Regions from separate parts of the Homo sapiens genome. Here region 2 is linked to region 1. Evidence: fine-mapped expression QTL. Tissue or cell type: regulatory T cells. Region 1 holds a variant in brackets; the other region holds the start of a gene. All regions are shown on one strand. Distances are from middle to middle.

Region 1 (8,103 bases):
AATCATTACTTTTGTTTAAGTGATCACTTTTCCTCCACATTTAAAAGGGCTGAAAGGTTAGAAGCAACTTTATAGTTGATTTAAACAAGCTAATATAGGTCAATTACAGTGTGCCTCTGAGACCAGTTACTCACAATATAGAAACACCAGTTACTCATCATATAATTTTTTTCCCCAAAGATGTGCTGTCTCTGGCAACTATTTAAAAAGTCCCTCCCCCCTACTTACCACTGAGGGATACTTAGGCTGGCTCTTCTCTAAGGCACTTCTTCCTCCCTGTCATTTACTCACACAGGACTGGAACATTTGGAGACATTCTATAAGAGTTCCTAATATAGCCACAAGAAGGTAGAGGCCTTCTTAAGGGGGTCACATGACTGTACTGACATTCAGAGCAAGACTAAAAGCCCTTTCATCTCTGAACAGCTTAGAAGATGATGTAGTTTAGGTAACCGCCAACAGTGACAATTCTACCATCTTTGGAGAAATTTTTTTTTCCCTTAGAGAATAAATTTGAATTCTAAAAAAAGAACATATCAAAACTAGAACATTAAACCCTGCATTATAAATATGAGCAGCAATATTCAGAACATTCTGATTTAATAAATAATTTACATGAGAGGAGTTCTGGAGGAAAAAACTCTAGCCAAAAAAGGGATCCAGACAGGCTAGATGGTCAATTATACCTTGATAAGGCTGAGGGAAAACACAAAAATAATATTTTAGGCCGGGAGCGGTGGCTCACGCCTGTAATCTCAGCACTTTGGGACGCTGAGGCGGGTGAATCGCTGGAGGCCAGGAGTTTGAGACCAGCCTGGCCAACATGGTGAAATACTGTCTCTACTAAAATTAACTGGGCGTGGTGGTGCATGCCTGTAATCCCAGCTACTCGGGAGGCCGAGGCATGAGAATCACTTGAACCCAGGAAGTGGAAGTTGCAGTGAGCTGAGATCATGCCACTGCACTCCAGCCTGCACACCTAGTGAGACTCTTGTCTCACCAAAAAAAAAAAAAAAAAAAAAAAAAAAAAAGACTAACACATAGAGGAACATTTATCTGACTATAACTTTTCTGATTCTCAATCATCTCTATGACAGGGAAGTCAGAGGGAATGACAGATTCTTCCAAATGAGAAGAAAAAAACAAGAGTAAACTAACGATGTTCGTTTTACTAGCCCTGTCTAAGCAGGTAAATGCACTTTTAGGATTCTAGCTAAGGGATTTTTTTTAAACAATGATAAAATGAACATAACATAAAATTTACTATTTTAACCATTTTTAAGTATACAGTTCAATGGTATTAAGTATATTAATAGTGTTGTGCAACCATCACCATCATCTATCTTCAGAACTTTCTCATCCTCCCAAACAGAAATACTGTACCCATTAAATAATATCTCCCCATTCTCCTCATACTCTTAGCTCCCCTGACAACCAACCACCTTCTCTACTTTCTGTCTCTGAACTTGACTCACAGGTACCTCAGTGGAATCATACAGTATTTTTCCTTTTATGACTGGATTATTTCTCTTAGCATAATATCTTCAAGATTCACGCATGTTGTAGGATATGTCAGAATTTCTTTCCTTTTTAAGGACAAATAATGTTCCATTATCTGTATATCCAAGGTTTGTCATCCATTCATCAGTCAATAGACAGTTGGGTTGCTTCTGCCTTTTGGCTTTTGTGAATAATGCTGCTATGAATACGGGTGTACAAATATTGCCTCAAGACCCTGCTTTCAATTCTTTTGGTTATATACCGGGAGTAGCATTGCTGGATCACAAGGTCATTCTATTTAAATTTTTTAGGAACTGCCATACTGTTTTCCACAGTGGCTCCTCCATTTTACATCCCTATCAATAATGCATAGGGGTTCCAAATTCTCCACATCCTCATCAACATTTGTTATTTTCCGTTGTTTTTTTTTTTTTTTTTTTAATAATAGTCATCCTAGTGGGTGTGAAGTGGTATCTAATTGTGGTTTTGATTTACATTTCCCTAATGATTAGTGATGTTGAACATCTTTTCATGTGTTTCTTGGCCATCTGTACATCTTCTCTGGAGAAATTTCTATTTAAGTCCTTTGCTCACTATTTTTTTTTTTTTTTTTTTTTTTTTTTGAGACAGAGTCTCGCTCTGTCACCCAGGCTGGAGTACAGTGGCTCAATCTCGGCTCACTGCAACCTCTGCCTCCTGGGTTCAAACGATTCTCCTGCCTCAGCCTCCTGAGTAGCTGGGACTACAGGCACATGCCAACATGCCCGGCTAATTTTTTGTATTTTTAATAGAGATGGAGTTTCACCGTGTTAGCCAGAATGGTCTTAATCTCCTGACCTCGTGATCCGCCCACCTCAGCCTCCCAAAGTACTGGGATTACAGGCGTGAGCCACTGTGCGCGGCCTCTGCCCACTCTTTAATGAGGTTGTTTTTGCTGTGTTGAGTTATAGGAGTTCTTTAGATTATTATGGATATTAATCCCTAATCATAAATATGATTTGCAAATATTTTCTCCCAATCCAGGGTTGCCTTTTCACTCTGTAGATGGCAAAGGAAATTTTGATGTCAAGTAAGCCTAATGTCCTAGAAGCTACTGGCCCCAGGAGGTCAGGATTGAGAGTGAATTCTAGATATCTATAAATTATAACTAGGACCAAAATTACAGTAAGATGAATTTGTAAATGCTAACAGCTGTACCTCAAAAAAAAAAAATTACAGACACAGTGGCTCACATCTGTAATCCCAGCACTTCAGGGGGCCAAAGCAGGAGGATCACTTGAGCCCAGAAATTCAAGACCAGCAACACAGGCTGGGCATGGTGGCTCACGCCTATAATCTCAGCACTTTGGGAGGCCGAAGCGGGCAGATTACTTGAGGCCAGGAGTTCAAGACCAGGCTGGCCAACATGGTGAAACCCCATCTCTACTAAAAATACAAAAAATTAGCCGGGCATGGTGGTGGGCGCCTGTAATCCCAGCTACTAGGGAGGCTGAGGTGGAAGAATCACTTGAACCCTGGAGATGGAGGTTGCAGTGAGCTGAGATCACGCCACTGCACTCCAGCCTGAGGCATAGAGCGAGACTGTCTCAAAAAAAAAAGACCAGCAACACAGCAAGACCCCATCTCTACAAACATTTAAAAATCAGCCAGGTATGATGGCATGCACTTGTGGTCCCAGCTACTTGGGAGGCTGAAGTAGGAGGATCGCTGAGCGCCCAGGAGATCAAGGCTGCAATAAGCCATGATGGTGCCACTTGTACTTCAGCCTGAGCAGCAGAGCAAGACCCTGTCTCAAAAATAAATAAATAAATAAATATTACAAGTTATTTATTTTTAGGGCAAAAATTTTAAATTTTAAGCAAAGAGCTCCCTGTGTTGCTGGAATTATATATCTTAATAACAAAGTAATTTTTAAAAGAAAAGCAGGGCAAAACACCAAAAATAAAAACAAAAGGAAGCCATCCTCAGCAAACTAACACAAGAACAGAAAACCAAACACCACATGTTCTCACTTGTGAGTAGGAGCTGGCCGGGTGCAGTGGCTCATGCCTATAATCCCAGTACTTTGGAAGGCCAAGGCGGGTGGATCACTTGAGGTCACGAGTTCGAGACCAGCCTGGCCAACATGGTGAAACCTCGTCTCTACTAAAACTACAAAAATGAGCCAGGCATGGTGGCGCACGCCTGTAGTCCCAGCTACTTGGGAGGCTGAGGCAGGAAAATGGCTTGAAACCAGGAGGCGGAGGCTGCAGTGAGCTGAGATCAAGCCACTGCACTCCAGCCTGGGTGACAGAGAGAGACTCCATCTAAAAAAAAAAAGTGGGAGCTAAACAATGAGAACACATGGACACAGGGAGGGGAACAACACACACTGGGGCCTGTTGGGGGGTGGAGTGGGGGGAAGGAGAGTATTAAGAAAAGTAGCTGGCCAGACGCAATGGCTTATGCCTGTAATCCCAGCAATTTGGGAGGCTGAGGCGGGTGAATCACCTGAGGTCAGGAGTTCCAGACCAGCCTGGCCGACATGGTGAAACCCCCTCTCTACTAAAAAGGCAAAAATTAGCTGGGCATGGTGGCAGGCACTTGTAATCCTACCTACTTGGGAAGCTGAGGCAGGAGAATCGCTTGAACCCAAGAGGGGGAGGTTGCAGTGAGCCGAGACCATGTTATTGCACTCCAGCCTGGGCGACAACAGCGAGACTCTGTCTCAAAAAAAAATTAAAAAAATAAAAATAGCTAACGCATGCTGGGCTTCATACCTAGGTGATGGGTTTACAGGTGCAGCAAACCACCATGGCACACATTTACCTATATAACAAACCTGCACATCCTGCACATGTACCCAGAAATAAAAAT[TAA/T]AAAAAAAAAAAAAAAAAAAAGATACTCAGTGCTTTTGGGGCAGCAATCTCTTCCAAAAAAGAAAAATAGAAAAGAAAAGCAGTGTATATAGCACTCATCTCTCTCCAAGTTAACCAAAACCTTGCCTTAGTTCATGCATGGAAATTTGAACCCCATGATCAAGTTATCTACTGCCACCTGATGGCAATATTCCTTCACTACATGTTCCGATAGTTTGAAGACTTATAAATTTAATCTGCAAACATGGTGATAGCAGCAATAACATAGAAGCATATTTTGTATTTGTTTTAAAAACAAGATTTTTACTGAATTTGATACATGGAAGAAAGTACAACAACTGTTAAAAATATTAAGCTCACAAAAATTTGGGGTATCAAAACTCACTAGCCTATTGGAAAATCCAGTTTTCTAACAGTTTCCCTAGTCTGTCTCAACTTCCTCACTTCTCCACAGGTTTACCAAATTGCATAAAGAAGTGTGTAACTCGAAGCTGATCAGAAAACAAAAGGGCCTCTTACACTGCTCAGGAATGCAGACTCTGTCCTTAGCCCCTTAGCCCCAGAAGAAAAGGAAGGACCCTTACTTCTACTCCTCACGTCACAGAGCCCCTTCTCTGATGTGCAACACAGCAAAGCACTTTGCAATATAAAAGCTTTTCAACATTTTGTCTTTACCCCCTTATAAACTAGCCCTTTATAGGGTCCCCAAAAAACAGAAGAAAACTTTTTATGCATAAGAAAAATCACATTGTTACATTTCCTAAAAATCAATGCTGAAAACGACAGCCCAGCATACCTACCTTAATAAGCCCACTGAAGGAGCGCGAACGAGCCCTCTTTTGTACCTGGGAAGTAGAAGGTTCTCGCCCTGGTGTCTGGGTCAATGATTGCTTATTAAACTAAAAGAAAACATGGAGAACATTTTATAAATACTTTCCCATCAAGACACGGCATTCTGTGACAACTAATAGCTAAGTGTAAATAAAAGTCCAGGAAAAACTGAGTCTGCGCATAGATGGATTAGGAGGTCAAAAAGCCAATCACAAAGTCAGAAATGATGATGCCAAAAGAAGTGGATTCAAGTGCTCTGAGGGGCTCTGCACGCCACATTCCTTGAATGTGGAATTACTGTCCCCATTCTACAGACAAAAAAACTGAGACTTGGAGAGCTTATGAAATTTATCCACGATCCCCAGCTGCTAACCAAGACTTTTTTGCAACAAAGCATCTTGGAACCACACAGTTACTGGCACAATCTAAAACAGTCCCTAATTTAACATAAATTGCATACAGAATTTTTTTAAGTTACTAAAACTCTTTAAATGGACATCTATCATGACTGCCTGACAACAATACCATCAGAGGAAATACATCAGAATGCAGACTTGTCAATGCTATCAACATCAGCTCTCTGGAGGTATCTAAAGTGGAAAACGAGAAGACCCAATGCATTGAATAATCTTATTCAATGCTTTGATTAGCCATTCATTTCCCACTTAAAAAGTAATAATAATATAGCATTTAACTCTTCTACTCTTCTGCCTTTTCAGATTGTTGATGATGTTGCTGTTGTTGCTGGAGACAGAGTCTCACTCTGTTGCCAGGCTGGAGCGCAGTGGCACAATCTCGGCTCACTGCAACCTCCGCCTCCCAGGTTCAAGCAATTCTCATGCCTCAGCCTGGCGAGTAGCTGGGATTACAGGCGTGCGCCACCACACCCAGCTAATTTTTTCTATTTTTAGTAGAGATGGGGCTTCACTGTGTTGGCCAGGCTGATCTCGAACTCCTGACCTCAAGTGATCCGCCCACCTCGGCCTACCAAAGTGCTAGGATTACAGGCGTGAGACACCACACCCAGCCTCTTCTGCCTTTTCTAACTATACTTTTAAAATTTCGGAACTGTAAAAATTTGGGAATTTTACCAGTTCAAGTTCTGGAGGTTAAAAAATTACTTTTACATAAAAGTACCAAGAGGTTCTCAAAGTTAATTGTCTCGGCAGGCAGAAAAATTAGCCACGTCTGAAGAGCTTAGCTAGTTAAGTATCCCTCCTGAATAAACTGGGACAAGTAAAAAATGCATCTTTCCTGATGGTGGCAAGGGTACAATAAGGTAAATTCTCTCATATCCAACTCAAGGGAGTGTTAACTGGCAAAATGTTCTGGGAAGGTATTTAGCAAGGTGTATCCAGAGCCTTTTTAAAATGCATATTAAAAAGTACATGCCACTAAAAATACAAAAAATTAGCCGGGCATGGTGGTGTACATCTGTAGTCTCAGCTACTCGGGAGGCTGTGGTGGGAGGATCATGATCACCTGAGCCCAGGGAGGTCGAGGCTGCAGTGAGCCATGATTGTGCCACTGCACTCCAGCCTGGGCAACAGACTCAGAAAAAAAAAAAAAAAAAAAAAATACACCACATATAAAGTGTTCTTAGCCTGAAAAACTGAATTAGAATCAGATCAAGCCTCTAGAAATAGATCTAACTACCAGTTTATAGCATGAACACAGGACTGTGAAACATGTTGAATAACATTACAGGAATGCAATCATTAAAATCCAGAATATAGGCCAAGCATGGTGGCTCATGCCTGTAATCTCAGCACTTTGGGAGGCCAAAGCCAGCAGATCACTTGAGCTCAAGAGTTCATGACCAGCCTGGGCAACATGGCGAAACCCTGTCTCTACAAAAAATACAAAAATTAGCCAGGCATGGTGGCACATGCCTGTAGTCCCGGCTACTCAGGAGGCTGAAGTGGGAGGATGGCTTGAACCCAGGAGGCAGAGGTTGCAGTGAGCTGAGATCAATCACGTCATTCCAGTCTAGGCAACAGAGCTAGACCTTGTCTCAAAAAAAAAAAAAAAAAAACTCAGTCTACGGAAAACAATATAGTTTCTTCCACAAATAAGGTTCAGATAAAATCATGCACCACATAATGACATTTTGGTCAATGACAGACCACGTATATGACAGTAGGTCCCATCAGATTATAATGGAGGTGAAAAATTCCTATCACCTCATGATATCACTGCTGTCCTAACATCACAGCGCAATGTGTTACTCAAGTGACTGCAGTGATGCTGGAATAAACAAACCTACTGTGCTGGAAGCTGTATAAAAGTCTAGTACATACCATTATATACAGTACATAATTCTTGATAATGATAATAAATGGGCTAGATGTGGCAGCTCACACCTATAATCCCAACACTTTAGGAGGCCAAGACAGGTGGGTCACTTGAGACCAGGAGTTCAAGACCAGCCTGGCCAACAGGGTGAAACCTCATCTGTACTAAAAATACAAAAATTAGCTGGGCGTGGTGGTGGGCGCCTGTAATCCCAGCTACTCGGGAGGCTGAGGCAGGAGAATCGCTTGAACCTGGGAGGCAGAGGTTGCAGTGAGCCAAGTCTGCGTCATTGCACTCCAGCCTGGGCGAAAGAGCGAGACTCTATCTCCAAAAAAAAACAAAAAACAAAAAAACAAAACAACAATAATGTTACTGGTTTATGTATTTACCATACTATACTTTTATCATCATTTATACCTTTTACCATTATTTTAGAGTGCACTCCTACTTATTTTTTTTTAAAGTTAACTATAAAACAGCCTCAGGCAAGTCTTTCAGGAGGTATTCTAGAAAAAGGCATTGTTATCATAGGAGATGACAGCTCCATGAGTGATATTGCCTCTGAAGACCTTCTAGTGGAATAAGATGTAGAGGCAGAAGACAGTGATATTAATGATCC
Region 2 (8,103 bases), 84 kb after region 1:
GGACTACAGGTGTGCGCCACCACACCCAGTTAATTTTTGTATTTTTAGTAGAGATGGGATTTCACCATGTTAGCCAGGATGGTCTCGATCTCTTGACCTCATGATCCACCCACCTCGGCCTACCAAAGTGCTGGGATTACAGGCCTGAGCCACTGCACCCAGCCAATTTCCCCTTTTCTATGGCTTATTGTTTCTAACACTTTATTGTAAAATTTTTCAAACAGCCAACAAAATTGAAAGAATACCCTGTTACCCAACACCTAGATCCTAGTATTTTAAAAATTGAGATATATTTCACATAACATAAAATTCAACATTTTAAAGTGTACACTTCAATAGTTTTTAGTACTGTATATTCATTATGTTGTACAAACATCACCACTAATTTCAAAACATTTTTATAACCCCAAAAAGAAAACTCTTACCCATTAGCTGTTAGTCCTAATTCCCCCCTTCTCCCATCCCCTGGCAACCACTAATCTACCTTCTGTTTCTATGGATTTGTCTATTCTGGACGTTTCATATAAATAGAATTACACAATATGTTGCCTTTCCTGTCTGATTTGTTCACTCAGCATAATGTTTTCAACATTCATTCCTTTTGTAGCATGTATCAGTACTTCATTCCTTTTTATGGTGAATAATACTCCATCGTATGAGTATACGACATTTGATTCATCCATTTATCAGCTGATGAACATCTGAGTTGTTTGCACTTTTTGACTATCATGAATAATGCTGCTATCAACATTTGTGTACACGTTTTTATGTGAACATATGTTTTCAATTTTCTCTGGTATATAGCTAAAAGTAGAATGGATGGGTCATATGGTAACATTAACATATTACTATACATGTTTTATCACATATCTACCTGTCTAACTATCCTTCTAATCCATCTATATTAATCCTTCTCACATTTTACTGTACTTTGGAATAAATTGCAAACATCAGTACACCTCACTCCAAACTCATCAGCATGTCTATTACTATAATTCAAGCTTTCTTTACAATTTATTCTCTTCATGTAAAATCTACAATTTTTTTCTCTTTGTTTTTTTGTTTTGTTTTGTTTTGTTTTTGTTTTTTGTTTTTTTGAGACAGGGTCTCACTCTACTGCCCAGGCTGGAGTGCAGTGGCACAATCTTGGCTTACTGCAACCTCTGCCTCTCGGGCTCAAGCAATTCTCCTGCCTCAATCTCCTGAGTAGCTGGGACTACAGGCATGAGCCACCATGCCCTGCTACTTGTTGTATTTTTAGTAGAGACGGGGTTTCACCATGTTGACCAGACTGGTCTCAAACTCCTGACCTCAGCTGATCTGCCCACCTCAGCCTCTCAAAGCGTTGGGATTACAGGCGTGAGCCACCGCGCCCAGCCCACTCAATGAGTTTTAACACATGCCTAAACCTATGAAACCCAAATCAAGATATCAAGATTTAGAACATGTCCACCCTCCTGCAAGTTCCCTCTGTCTGTTCAGTGTCACAGTGTCAGTCCTGCCCCTGCTCTACCTTTTCCAAAGGCAACCAGTCTTCTGATGTTTTCCCCACCGTAAGTTACTTTCCCTGTTCTAGAACTTCATATAAACAGAAACATATGACATATATCCGTTTTTATCTGGCTTCTTTCACTTAGCATACTGTTTTTAAGCTTCATTCATGTTACTGCATGCAGCAATATTCAGTCCTTTCTGTTGCTGAACTGTTTTCTGTCATCATCCTGTGTGAATGTACAATAGGTTGTTTGTCCATTCACCTGTTGATGAACACTTGGGCCATTTCACTTTTGGCTTTTATGAATAAAACTCCTTTGATGTGAGCCAACATCGTGCCACTGCACTCCAGCCTGGGCAAAAGAGGGAGACCCTGTCTCAATTAAAAAGAAAAAAAAATATGCTATGATCACCTCCCTGTAGGCCTTGATGTGGGCCCATGTGTTTATTTCTCTTAGCTAAGTATCCAGGATTGAAACTGTGTTCCAGGACAGGTGTATGTTTCATTTTATAAGAAACTGTCAGGCCTTTTTCCAAGGTGGTTGTACCATTTTTCATGCCCACAACAATATATGAGGCTTATAAGTTGTGAGCCAAAGATAAAAATGCACAAATTGTAAACTGCTACTAATTATTTTCATTTGAAAATTTTAAGTAGGCCGGGTCTGGTGGCTCATGCCTGTAAATCCCAGCACTTTGGGAGGTCGAGGCAGGCGGATCACCTGAAGTCAGGAGTTCAAGACCAGCCTGGCCAACATGGTGAAACCCCATCTCTACTAAAAATACAAAAATTAGCCAGGCATGGTGGTGCACGCCTGCAGTGTCAGCTACTTAGCAGGCTGAGGCAGGAGAACTGCTTGAACCCGGGAGGCAGAGGTTGCAGTGAGCGAAGATTGTGCCACTGCACTCCAGCCTGGACAACAGAGCAAGACTCCATCACAACAACAATAACAACAACAACAACAACAACAACAAATGCCCAACAAACCAGGAATAGAAGGGAACATTCTTAACCTGATAAATACTATCTATGAAAAATCCACAGCTAACATCCTACCTAATGTTGTGAAAGACTGAATGTTTTCATCTAAGATCAGGAATAAGACAGGGCCAGGTGCTGTGGCTCATGCCTGTAATCTTAGCACTTTAGGAAGCTGGGGTGGGCGGATCGTTTGAGCTCAGGAGTTCAAGACCTGCCCGAGCAACATGGTGAGACCCCCTGGGTCTACAAAAAATACAAAAATTAGCCAGGCATGGTGGCTTGCACCTGTAGTCCCAGCTACTCAGGAGGCTGAGATAGGAGGATCAACTGAGCCTGGGGAAGTCAAGGCTGCAGTGAGCAGAGATCATGCCACTGCACTCCAGCCTGGGCCACAGAATGAGACCCTGTCTCAAAAAAAAAAAAAAAGAAAAAAAGAAAAGAAAAAAGAAAAAGAAGAGAAGCAAAACTATCTCTATTTGTAGATGACACGATCTTCTATATAGAAAATCCTAAGGAATCCACAAAAACAAGGTGATGAACCTTATGACACCCTGTAGAAATCCAGATTTCGTAGATTAGAAATCCAATGGCTTTGTTTAAACTGTCTCTTCCTCTGTTTTTACATTTTTTCCTCCACACTTGACAAAAACAAACCCAACTCTTTTTAAACCAACTTCCCTACCTCTTTCCTGCACTCATCCCTTCCTAAAGGTTTGCTCCTATAATTATTATCGTTGGAACTGCCCAACAAGACCCTCGTTTTCTATTTATCTGGATCTCCAGGCTCATTTCTTTCTTTGTATCCTATTTTCTATATCATGCTCAGAATTTTAAAGTTGCTTCCAGGCTGGGCGCGGTGGCTCATGTCTGTAACGCCAGCATTTCGGGAGGAGGGATTGCTTGAGTCCAGGAGTTTGAGACCGGACGGGCCAACATGGCGAAACCCTGTATCCACTAAAAATACAAAAATTAGCCAGGTGTAGTGGCGCGTGCCTATTGTCCCAGCTACTCGGGAGGCTGAGGTGGGAGGATCACCTGATCCTGGGAAGTCAAGGCTGCAATCAGCCAGATCACACCACTGCACTCCAGCCTGGGTGACAGAGTGAAATTCTGTCAAAGAAAGAAAAGAAAGAGAAAGAAAAGGAAGAAAGGAAGGAAGGAAGCGTATCTCCATTTTCATCCAAACAGGTATTTTTCTCTGCTACTACGTACCTCCTCAGAGCCCATCCCCCCTACTGGTCTGAGGCTTTTTTTTAAACAACTTTCTGGACATAGCCCCTCTTAAGACTAACAACCTATAGCCAGGCGTGGTGGCTCACGCTTGTAATCCCAGGATTTTGGGAGGCCGAGGCAGGTGGATCACCTGAGGTCGGGAGTACCAGACCAGCCTGACCAATATGGAGAAACCCCATCTCTGCTAAAAACACAAAATTAGGCTGGGCATGGCGGCGCATGCCTGTAATCCCAGCAACTCGGGAGGCTGAGGCAGGAGAACTGCTTGAACCCAGGAGGCGGAAGTTGTGGTGAGCGGAGATTGCGCCATTGTACTCCAGCCTGGGCAACAAGAGCGAAACTCTGTCTCAAAAAAACAAAACAAAACAAAAAGAGTAGCAACCTAGGCCGGGCGCAGTGGCTCACGCCTGTAATCCCAGCACTTTGGGAGGCTGAGGCGGGTGGATCACCTGAGGTCAGGAGTTCGAGACCAGCCTGGCCAACATGGTGAAACCCCGTCTCTACTAAAAATACAAAAATTAGCCGGGCGTGGTGGTGGGCGCCTGTAATCCCAGCTACTCGGAAGGCTGAGGCAGGAGAATTGCTTAAACGCAGGAGGCGGAGGTTGTAGTGAGTGGAGATCGAGCCACTGCACTCCAGCCTGGGCGATAGAGCGAGACTCCGTCTCAAAAAAACAAACAAACAAATAAACAAAAAGACTAGCAACCTCCTCTCCAGCAATGCCAACCCCAGTCCAGGCCCCCATCCGCCCAGGATCTCGATCAAAAAACATTAATCTGTGGCCTTTCTTTGCCATTTCCAACTCTGCCACCTCCATCGAACGACAAGGTCCCCTTCTTCCTTTCCATTCCCGTCAGCTTCATTTCCCTAATCTCCGTACAAATCCCTAGCCTGACTCCCTTTCCTTTCCATCCTCACCAGACGCCCGCATGCCGGACCTCAAAAGCGCAAACGCTAAAAACCGGTTGAGTTGACGCACGGAGAGAAGGGGTGTGTGGGTGGGTGGGTGTGTGTTAGTGTGCGTGCTTGCTTGTGTGTGGAAGAAACCAACAGGGTTCACGCTGGTGCCCATTTCTGGAAATGCCAATCGCGCCCGACTGCGGGAGCCAGGATCAGGTCCCCAGGGCGCCCTTGCAGACAGCACCCTGAGCGAAGGAGCTCAGAAGGCAGTCCGGCTTCACCCAGACCCCCAATCCCACAGAAGCGCCGTCCCCCAGCGGCACAGCACCCCCTCCCCGGCGCGGTGGTAGGGCCCGACGTGACGTCACCCATTGTTTACAAATCAACCCGAGCCGGCAGGATTCCGGCTCCCGCGGCTGCAGGCGCGCGGCTAGAGTGCCTGGCGGGCTCCGGCTTCCGCGTCCGCCCCGGCCCCGGTCCAGACTTAGTCTTCAGCTCCGCGCCCGCTCCGCCGCGGCCCACCGCGCCCGCCGGCAGCCGAGCCCCCAGCGACGCCCGCACAGCTCCGGGTGCCCAGACAGGGGGCCATGCCGTGCCGGAGGGAGGAGGAAGAGGAAGCCGGCGAGGAGGCGGAGGGGGAGGAAGAGGAGGAGGACAGCTTCCTCCTACTGCAGCAGTCAGTGGCGCTGGGCAGCTCGGGCGAGGTGGACCGGCTGGTGGCCCAGATCGGCGAGACGCTGCAGCTGGACGCGGCGCAGCACAGCCCGGCCTCGCCGTGCGGGCCCCCGGGGGCGCCGCTGCGGGCCCCGGGGCCCCTGGCTGCGGCGGTGCCGGCGGACAAGGCCAGGTCCCCGGCGGTGCCGCTGCTGCTGCCGCCCGCGTTGGCGGAGACTGTGGGCCCGGCGCCCCCTGGGGTCCTGCGCTGCGCCCTGGGGGACCGCGGCCGCGTGCGGGGCCGCGCTGCGCCCTACTGCGTGGCCGAGCTCGCCACAGGCCCCAGCGCGCTGTCCCCACTGCCCCCTCAGGCCGACCTTGATGGGCCTCCGGGAGCTGGCAAGCAGGGCATCCCGCAGCCGCTGTCGGGTCCGTGCCGGCGAGGATGGCTCCGGGGCGCCGCCGCCTCCCGCCGCCTGCAGCAGCGACGCGGGTCCCAACCAGAAACCCGCACAGGCGACGACGACCCGCACCGGCTTCTGCAGCAGCTAGTGCTCTCTGGAAACCTCATCAAGGAGGCCGTGCGAAGGCTTCATTCGCGACGGCTGCAGTTACGTGCAAAGCTTCCCCAACGCCCGCTCCTGGGACCTCTGTCGGCCCCGGTGCATGAACCCCCTTCGCCTCGCAGCCCTCGCGCGGCCTGCAGTGACCCTGGCGCCTCCGGGAGGGCGCAGCTCAGAACTGGCGACGGCGTTCTTGTGCCTGGCAGCTAACACGCCCGGGGTGGCCACAGCGCCAGCCTCAGACTGGAGGGCAAGGGGTTCCCTTGAGGGCTGCAGTTCTACTCAGGCTGGTGGAGAACTCTGGCTTTTGGAAGCGAGAGTAAAAAGCTAATGACGAGGAACCGAAAAATCGCGAGTGTTTCGCGGGTAACTGGGGTTGAGGGCCAAAATATTTGGAATGAAGGACTTTGGCCCTATTTAAGGCAGATTTTACAGAGCGCACCTCAAACGTACAAGTCAGTAGGACTCCTTATTTGGCGTGACCCGACCTGGCCGCGGAGCCTGCATTTCCTCGCAGCCTCTCAGTGCCCTCCAGCCCCGCGACCATGTGGCCACAATCCACGCTTCTCCGGATCGCGGTGCGCCGGAACCACGGAGGATGATGCCAGTTACTTGCTTTACCTTTTCAGGGCTGGCTCCTGATCCACTTTGGGGGAGGAGAACATGAGTAGATAATTTCAGGGTGCAGCCCAATCTGCCAGACTTAAAAAAACCATCTTGTGTCTTTGGAGGTGCTGCTTAATACCAAACATGCGGTGCCATGAAGGGACCCTTTGGGGGTTGAATAGGAGTTAACCCCTGCGCTCTCTTTGCAACTGTCTCTCTTCTCAGAGTGGTGGGGGAAGGCTGTACGACACGGGTGGGGAAAGGAGGTGGGGGCGGGGAGTATTGAATGGTGGTGGAAGGGTAGAGAGGCGCGGAGTGAACCCCACGCCCTGTCTAAAGTGTATTTTCAGAGCCGGCCCGCCTCTCCTCGGTTCAAGGTCACTGTTTCCTGGGCACGCACTGGGTTGCGGGACAGAGTAGCCAGGTTCTGCCGGTGCTCGGAGAAGAGCGCAGTGTTTTGCAAGTGCTGGAGTCTCCTGAGGACACGCGCGTCGCCGCCACCGCGGGTGTGGGAAAGCGCGGACGTGCTGGGCGGCTGTGCTTCGGTAGGCGACCACCGCCCCTGGCCGCGCTCCGGGCTTTCACGGAAACTCCCGAGACCGGGCCCTGGGTTCCTCCTCTCCTACTCGGCTCTGCAGTCCTACTCAAGCGGGTGGCTCTGGGATCCTGGGGGCCTGGGTTGGGGGCTAGGGAGACGCCATGTGATGGACACTCCAGGGACACACAGCCTAGCACAGCAGCTTATAATGGGCTCTCCGGGGCCATTTGCAATAACAGCTGCAATTCCCTGGATAGACGAGTTGATTTCCTCCCTCTGCCCCTCCCCCAGCCATGCCAGCTGGCCTTTGTAAGTGCAGGAAACCGAGTAGAAAATGTGACCCTCCAAATGGAGAAGCTGCAGGCTTTGCCATTGTGAACCATGGTGAAGTGCTTGGAACATACTGTTCACTCACTCTAAAGGCGCTGAGACTGTGCTGTTGTTCTCGTTTTTATAGTCAATGGCTTGTTCATCATCCAGATGTGGCTACTGACATATCTACACTTCGCACCGGAGTGTCTGGAATTGTGGCTATCCTGATTATAGGATTTTAACTTAACTGAAATGCCTGCTTTGAATAAATGTGTTGGGTTTTTTGTTTGGTTTTATTTTATACTTGCCATCAGTGAAAAAGATGTACAGAACACATTTCTCTGATCTCCATAAACATGAAAACACTTGAAATCTCTGTCAGCCTGGCTTGTGGATGGTAATTAGAGCGCCTTTGTGTCTGAGCAGCTCACTAGCTAGACAAGGTCTCCGCAGCTGGGTGTGTATTGGAGCTGGCATGAAATTAAATGAAAGTGAGGTCAGGTTTTGGACCAATCCCATTCGTTAAAACCTCAGAGCCTTTTGGATTACTAGTCAGTGATGGAGATGTGTTATAAAGCTGCCTCTATTAGCAAAGGACATCAGATCAGCCAGTCACTGCAAACTGGGAGGCTTATCTTTTTTTTTTTCTTTTTCTTTTTTTCTTCTTTCTCACCGTGGCCATTAAGTGCACTTGTTCCACAAGGTGGGCCTTAAGGCTGGGGCAGCTCTTGATTAGGAGACTGCTCACAATGTGAGCCTGGTGGTAGGAAAGCTGGGTGGAAACTTACAAAAGACTCCTGTCTTTGCCCCTGGCACATTTA

Which allele goes with the higher level. Alleles are on the strand shown, and positions count from the first base shown. SD is a standard deviation of normalised expression in the study named.
With allele T in place of TAA in region 1, the expression in regulatory T cells of the gene that starts at base 5,014 in region 2 is higher (moderate effect, 0.61 SD a copy in Schmiedel 2018).

What was found. PIP is the estimated chance that this variant, and not a neighbour inherited with it, causes the effect.
Region 2: FRAT1 starts here. The variant in region 1 is fine-mapped to the expression of FRAT1 in regulatory T cells (Schmiedel 2018, PIP 0.95).

The regions. Positions count from the first base shown.
Region 1 is chr10:97,230,059-97,238,161 of GRCh38, forward strand. ARHGAP19 (Rho GTPase activating protein 19) reads right to left here. Exons shown (of 12, transcript NM_032900.6): 9 at 5,159-5,257. ARHGAP19-SLIT1 (ARHGAP19-SLIT1 readthrough (NMD candidate)) reads right to left here. Exons shown (of 15, transcript NR_037909.1): 9 at 5,159-5,257. LOC105378447 (a long non-coding RNA gene) reads left to right here. Exons shown (of 3, transcript XR_946226.3): 3 at 1,098-1,180. Among named protein-coding and RNA genes, the nearest start is that of SLIT1, 48 kb to the left of the region's middle. The variant TAA/T (reference allele first, on the strand shown) is at 4,357.
Region 2 is chr10:97,314,258-97,322,360 of GRCh38, forward strand. FRAT1 (FRAT regulator of Wnt signaling pathway 1) reads left to right here and starts at 5,014. Exons shown (of 1, transcript NM_005479.4): 1 at 5,014-7,658. The coding sequence starts at 5,197. The coding sequence ends at 6,036. RefSeq lists enhancers at 4,328-5,117, 4,855-5,149, 6,239-6,398 and silencers at 4,989-5,298, 5,799-5,898.